Linked DNA regions of Homo sapiens. The protein of the gene in region 2 interacts with the protein of the main gene of each other region in a pairwise test. Each region holds a gene or a part of one and is shown on either strand. Other genes may lie near its edges.

What was found. The genes of interacting proteins can lie anywhere in the genome.
Region 1: the proteins of SDC3 (region 2) and KCNJ2 interact in a two-hybrid assay, tested with the Homo sapiens proteins (one large-scale study listed by BioGRID).

Annotation. Positions count from the first base shown.
Region 1 is NC_000017.11:70,168,401-70,172,331, reverse strand, and holds the start of KCNJ2 (inward rectifier potassium channel 2), read right to left. Parts: upstream 2,801-3,931; 5' UTR 2,631-2,800; intron 1-2,630.
Region 2 is NC_000001.11:30,898,759-30,902,258, forward strand, and holds part of SDC3 (syndecan-3), read right to left. Parts: intron 1-3,500. UniProt on the Homo sapiens protein: Cell surface proteoglycan that may bear heparan sulfate. May have a role in the organization of cell shape by affecting the actin cytoskeleton, possibly by transferring signals from the cell surface in a sugar-dependent mechanism.

The DNA of each region.
Region 1 (3,931 bases), on a different chromosome or scaffold from region 2:
TTTTTTTTTTTTTTTTTTTGGCAAAAAGAAAACTTTTGCCACTTTAAATAGATATGCCCCCAAACAGATTTATGTGTGTATGCAGGTGCACACACATATATGTATGCAGACTTTTTGTGGAGCTGATTACATAGCTAAAGTCTAGAACCTGTCAAGGTTTGATGGGGTAACGGTCTTAATATTTCATGGTAAAAATTGCTTTTACTGTTAACCTGCCCACATGCCTGAGCGACTTTAAGCAAGCAGAAAACTTCCTTGCCCGGTCCTCTCACTAGCAATTACCAATTCGTGAGCAGCTGAGAAAAGCTATCATTAAAAAAACAGGGCTTACATGCAACTTTATTTCAAGCATATATTCAAAATAATGTTTGAGATGCAATCAATGAGGAGTAGATGAGAACACTAAGTGATACAAATCCAGAGAATTGAAATTTGATTTGATGAACAATGTGTAAATCTCCCTTCCAGCCAAAATATTTAAGGGTCTAGATGTAAATTTCATGGACACAAATAATCATTTTTATCCAGGCCATAACCCATGATGTAGAAAGTATTTTTGGGAAATTGAGAGGTTACATGTGGTGCTGTTCATGTTAAGACTATTTATAGGCTGAGCCAAAATTAAGCATAAGCAATGGAAAAAAATAGTTCAGCGTTTTAAACTTAGGTAGATGTTAAAGGAGAAAGAGCTATGGATAAATGTAAGGTCAAGGAGATCACATGGTACAAATGGGGGATCTAAATTGCTTTGACTATATAGGTAATACTTCCAATATGGCTTATAAATAACTAAAAAAAAAAATCAAATGAGAGTAAATGTGTCCTGTAATATGGTCATGGTGTGCAATAAATAAGAAAGTTTCTAAGGATAGGAAATAAAGATAGCAAAAGAAAACGTACTGGGCTGAGAGAGAGGTCTGCTAATGAGTGTTTAGAGCAGCTATTCCCCAGCTGACGCCATATAGAACAGCCTGAGTGTGCTCTGGGCACATGTTGCTATGTGAGCACAACTGCTAGGAAAGCAGCCTCTTAGAAGCTCAATAAACATGAGGGAGGAGGAGGGGGAAGTGGGGAGGGGAGGGGGATACCCATCTATCTACGTGTGAGCCCCCTGTCTAACATTTATACTCAACGACACTTGGCTTGTAGCACTGCTCAGCATTTGCATACGCTGAAAAACAGACATGTTTGGTAAATAAAAATATACACTTAAAAAAATCTGAAACACTTAATCTGTGCAGGTAGCTGTTTTCAATCTTTCAGGCTACGCAAAAGTCATACAAGGACGCTACAGCTAACCAGAGATTCTACAACTCAGGAATCCAAAGGATGTAGAAAGACTGTGTTCTTTTATTTTTTTTAAAAGCAAAATTCACATGAGTTTAGATCAAATATTTCTTATGGAGACCAAGAACATTAAAAAATAAAGTGTCATTAAAATATGAGAGAGGAGGAAGCTAAGTAAAATGGCCTTGACCTTATCCTCACCCTTTCCACCATGCTTCAATTAACATCTCTTACCCCTTCTGAGCACCAGGATTTTTCCAGATAATGGCAAATAGAAATGAAACATTTGGAAGTGAGCAGGAAAACGCTAACAAGTGTACAGATAATGTACAGCAGACACACAACATTGGTTGGCGAGAGGAAATCTGGCAGCCTATTGATTATTAATGTGAAAAGAAAACAAATGATAAAACGCAATATGGTTTCTTTGCATATCCGAGGTTTTCAAATAACACCTTATTTCCTAACAGGTAAAATCTGAATTTATGAAAATCGTCGGAATTCACAGCCTTTTATCCTAGTGATCATCCTATGATATCCTTACCCAGACACAGACATTAAACTGCCCATTCCCTATCCCTATTTTTTTTCCAATTGTCATGATGAATCCACGCTATGATGCAATCTTTTTGCAGAATCAAGTCGTTTTGACTATTTTGCTTTCCTAAAACCACACTGTCTTCAAGCCAGGTATTAATACCATTATTACTGAAAATAACAAATTGGTTAGGGGAGAGTGATATGTAATGTGAAAGTTTTGCGATCCTCAGGCTCAAATCCAACTCGGGCTCCCGCTCTTCTTTCAGGAAGGCAACTTTGAGACACTCACTCTGTTTGAAACTCACAGCTATACTTGAAGCAATGACGAAAAAAAAAAAAAGCCAAGGATCAAGAATAGTGCTGAGTCCCAAGCTTTGCCAAGGTTTAAGACCAGGGCTCAAGACGCACCCCCAAACCCGCAACCACGTTTTCTTTCTTTTTTTCCCCACTTAGAGTGAGAACCGAACACAGACGCTCTCGCCCTTGCCTCCAAACCCAGTATCTCGCTACAGCTGGTGCATTGGAAGTTATGAGCACAAACAGATGCTGCAGAGAAATCTGTTTCTATTGCTCAACTGTTCCAAGCATGTCTCAGTATTTTTAGCTCTGGGGATGTTCTGGTGCGCACACAAACTATATAGGCATGATCTGGGACTCCGGAGTGTGGGTGAGCGCTACAGCAGTGTGACAGCTGGGCACCTCTGGAGCAGCGGGGCAGGGTAGGGTAGGGGACGGCGGCCAGAGTCCATTCCCCAGGACACACCGGCAGCGAGCGAAAAGGAAGAAAACACAGCAGCCCTTACCTGTTGCTGGCGCAGGAGCATGGGGACATGGAGTGGAAGTGGGGGGTACAGAGGCATGTAAGATCCAGTGGTTTGTAAAAAGCGAGTGAGCCAAAGCAAACCAGAATTCCCAAGACCCAGCCCGCCGGCGCCGGGAAGGCTGCGCGCTGGCCAGGGCTCCAGTGCGCTCTGCAATATCCTGGGCTCTTTTGAGGCGGTCCGTGCGACACCGGCTCTCCTGGCCCCGCCCCCGGCCGCTGCCGGCCAATCGCAGCGCGCCTGGCCGCGCGGCCGGCCCCGGGAACCGCGGCGGGGAGGGGAGGATGCTGCGAGGCGTTGCCAGCGGAGGGAACCTGCCGCCGCCTCGTCCCCCTCCACCCTCGGAGCCCGGCCGGGGAGTCGGGCCCGGGCCGGGGAGGAGGAAGTTGCGGCCCAGCTGGGACAGCAGCAGGTGGGAAGCTCCGCGCCCGGCTGTTGCGGCTGCCTGATTGCAGCCTGGCCTTGGGCAAAGCTTCCTACTCCGTCTGGAGCCCCACACACTTCCCGGTTCCCCCGCTCTTGGGCCGCTTGCCCTGCGTGCTCCTCGAGGGGCCTGCGAGGTGCCAGCGCCGGGTAGAGACCTTTGCCGCAGGGGCAGGATTGTTCGTCGGTCCCGGCGCGTCTCCCTCTCCACTCCCTCTCTGCCGGAGCCCCTCGGCCCTTCGAAGCCCCCCGCGGAGGCTGCAGCGCCCGGAGAAGCCACTGAGTCAATGGGGCGAGGGACTGGGGCGGGCGCGCAGAGCCCCCAGGATTGAGACGCGCGCAAGTGCGGCCACTGCAGCGCCGCTTGGCTGTTTGTTCTCCCGACTGTTCGCGAATTACTTACAAGGCGCCTAGGCTTCTCCGAAGGGTGGACGGCTCGTTCCCTCTCGCCTTGTCCGCCCTCAGTCTCTCCACCACCGCCCGGCACGCTTTGCTGATCTAAAATCAGAACAATTAGAGAGTAATGATTTTTTTTGGAATAGCAACTCCTACAGACACTCAGATCTGCCCTCGCTTCAGCGCCTCCCAGCCCTCCTTCCCAGCAGCCAGGCGAGAGCGCGCAGACCCCTAAAAAGCAACTTCAGTGTTAACCGGGTCTGGATCCTGGAACTTTATAAACTAATCCGTGTGTGTGTGTGTGTGTGTGTGTGTAAACCGAAGAGTAAGTGCCTATTATTTCTGAGTACTTCGGTGTCCTAACGAAGCTTTGCTCCTAAAGGACAGGATATATTTTAGGAGTCTTTCTTTCCACTGAGTTTTTTAAATGTTTATTTTCTCGAGCGATCAAATGTGTCTTTTGT
Region 2 (3,500 bases):
TAGTTCCTCAAATCTGAAGACTACAAGGGCCCCTGGGTCACCATTCACTCTTCCCATTTAACAGACGTGGAAGTGGAGGCCCAGAGAGGGAACAGGCTGCCTGCTACCACTTGACAAGCTAGTGGCAAATTCACCTCTGAGACACAACCACCTTGGGGAATGTATAATAATTAAAAGTCATCACCCAGCAGCAGGTTCCTTTTAACCATCTGCACCTCCCACCACTCCTCACCACCACCTAACGGGTCAGGGATCACTGGATCTGTCTGACAGAAGAGGAGACTAAGGCTGAGTCAAGAGTCACTTAGCCAAATCCACCCACTTCTTCGTTTCGTTGTTGTTGTTTGAGATGGAGTCTCGCTCTGTTGCCCAGGCTGGAGTGCAGTGGCACAATCTCAGTTCACTGCAACCTCCACCTCCCAGGATCAAGCAATTCTCCTGCCTCAGCCTCTGGAGTAGCTGGGATTACAGGTGTGCACCACCATGCCCAGCTAATTTTTGTATTTTTAGTAGAGATGGGGTTTCACCATGTTGGTCAGGCTGGTCTCGAACTCCTGACCTTGTGATCTGCTCGCCTCGGCCTCCCAAAGTGTTGGGATTACAGGCATGAGTCACCAAGCCTGCCTTGTTGTTTTTGAGACAGTCGCGCTCTGTCACCCAGGCGAGAGTGCAGTGATGCGATCTCGGCTCACTGCAACCTCCGCCTCCCGGGTTCAAGCAATTCTCTGCCTCAGCCACCCAAGAAGCTGGGATTACAGGCACCTGCCACCGCCTGGCTAATTTTTGTGTCTTTAGTAGAGATGGAGTTTCACCATCTTGGCCAGGTGGGTCTTGAACTCCTGACCTCATGATCCACCCGCCTTGGCCTCCCAAAGTGCTGGGATTACAGGCGTGAGCTACCTCGCCCAGCCAAAATCCACCCACTTCTAATGGCAGAGCTGGGGCTCAGCCTGTCAGGGAGGAGGGGTAGGGCTTCCTCCCTGCTTCTCTTCAATTCCCCCCTCGAGACCTCACAAAAGCACATGCACCTGCCACCAGTAAACCTGCCTGAAGCAAGACATGGCCAGACAAGACATAGGACACACACGACACAACTGAACACTGACAGCCCCCTTGCACAGGGCTTCATATACAGCAGGTGCTTAGTAAATGTCTGCTGAGTGAGCAACGCAGTCAATCAAGACAGGCGCCCATGCAGGAGCCCACACGTCTGCCTGATGCCCTTGTGTGGGGAAAAGAAAGAGATCAAAATGGAGTTTCTTATGTCTTCCTTTTCTACATAGACACAGTAACAGTCTGATCGCCCTTTCTTTTCCCCACGCTCTTGAACGAGCATCTCCATAAGCACCCAGGCTCCAGGCTCAGAGTCCTGCTAACTGCCCCACTGTGGGCACATTGCTCAACCTCTCAGGGCCTCTGTGCCCCCATCTGTAAAATGGGGTAACCATGCCTGCCTCACAGGGCCATAGTGAGGACCCACTGAGATAAAGCATGTTAAGCACTTAGAACCACACCTAGCACATGACATGCAGCAGTAAGTATTGGCCGTTATCTTTCTCATCATCTTCCTCGTCATCATCTGTGCTTGTGTCTGTCTCCCTGACACAGGGAGCATCTTGAAGGCAGGAACCAGGTAAGATGCAGCTGCAGACACCCCCCAACAATGGCATCCAGGCCTTGAGGAGGGGGCATTAAGCAAGGGGTGGATGACAGAGGGTAAAGACTGACACAGGCACCTATACCCCAACTGTGGGCCTGGACAGGGAATAGTGTATGGCTTCTGTCAGGTAAAAATGCCCTTCCCCTGCTCCCAAAACAACAGTCCACCTCCCCCCAGCTCTCCAGGAGCCTTGCCTACTCAGGCCCTGCATCCCCCACGGAGCACCCCCAAGCCCCAGCCCAGGGAGGGGGACAGGTCTAATGAGCCGCCCACAGCCCCCTGGTGCCCGCAATCGAATTGGCAATCAGTTTGCTGCAATTAGATTTCCCAGATCCCGCTGGTGATTGATTCTAAATTACCCTCATTAAAGTCTGGGCTGGCAGGCAGGGATGGGGGAGGGCAGGATGGATGGGGGGGTCCTAGCTGGCAGTGCAGGGGGTACAGGAATCTCTAGGGTCGCCTGGGCCAAGGCTAACCCCAGGGTGAAGCAGCACCAGACAGCACCCTGGAAGCCCATGGCCCATCCAAAAGCAGGATGAAGGCCCAAGTCAGTGTTATCCCCAGTCCCAGCTGCACCCCCAGAAAACCCTGGCTAAGTAGGGGATGTGACGACAAGATCAGATGGGGCTCCAGGGTAGGAGAAGGGGCAAATGAACACCAGGCTCCACCAGCTCCTGGCTGTGTGTGCTTTGGCAGGTGGCCTAACATCTCTGAGCCTTCCTCTAAATAAGGGGAATCCCACCAGCCCCTCAAGAGTGGTGGGAGGCTCAGTGGGACCATCTAAGGCTGGAGAGCCAGCCCCAATCCATTGGCAAGGCCCCAGGCTGTGGCTGGGCCATCAGCTGTGGGATGTCAGGCTGTAGGGCTGGCCATCTCTCTAGGACTCTCCACCCCTGAGATCCTGCGTAAACATCAATAGTCACCTACTCTGGGCCAGGGCCCATGTGACAGACAGAACACAGCCGAGATGCTCCCTGGCTGGGAGGAAAATGGAAAGCACCCAGTCTCACCAAGTCCTGGGCTCAAGCTGCAAATAACAAGGCCTCTCTGGAGTTCCAGGAGTGGAAGGGCCTGAAGAGTCATCATGCAGGATGGACTGCAGGCTGCTCAACAGCTCTGGAGAACCAGCCCCCAGAAACTCAGCACCACGGACCCTAGAATGTGCTTCCTCTCATCTGGCTTAAGTCCTGCTGGCTCCAACTGGGAGTCCGGCCCTTGGTCTCCTTCTAAGGGTACCCCCACCCCCAGAGTTCTCCTTCAGGCCATCCATGATTATTCAAACTTAGTTCCCCCTCTCTCCAAAAGAAAACCCTGCTCCTCACCCCCAAGCAGTAGTTCTTCAGTAAGACCCAGAGAGGGACAGAAAAAGAACAAAAACCAAGGCAGGTGAATGGAAAAAAAACAAGATTTGCAGGAGCAGCCCGCTCCTTATTTACTTTAGTACTTTATTTACTTTATTACTTTATATTACTAATTCTCAAGCAACCCTGAGGTCCCATTTTAAAGAAGAGGAGACTGCGGGTTCAGAGAGGTTAGGTGAACTCACCAAGGTCACACAGCAGGAATGTGACAAAGCCAGGATTTCAACCCTGAATCAGCTGGCTCCAGGATCCCTACTCCTTCGATGACTTCAAGCTGCCCCCTCAGGCTTGGGACACCCCAAAACAGACATAGCACCAAGGCCAGGGGTGGGGAGAAGGCAGGCCTCAGCCAGCTGGGGCAACAGGGGTTGTAGAACCCTCTCCACCTGGTATAAAAGGCCAGCATAGGCGTTTCCTGCCCTCCACCCACAGCAGCCAGGTAAAAAAAGGGCCAGATCATTTGTTGGGGCCACCGCCAC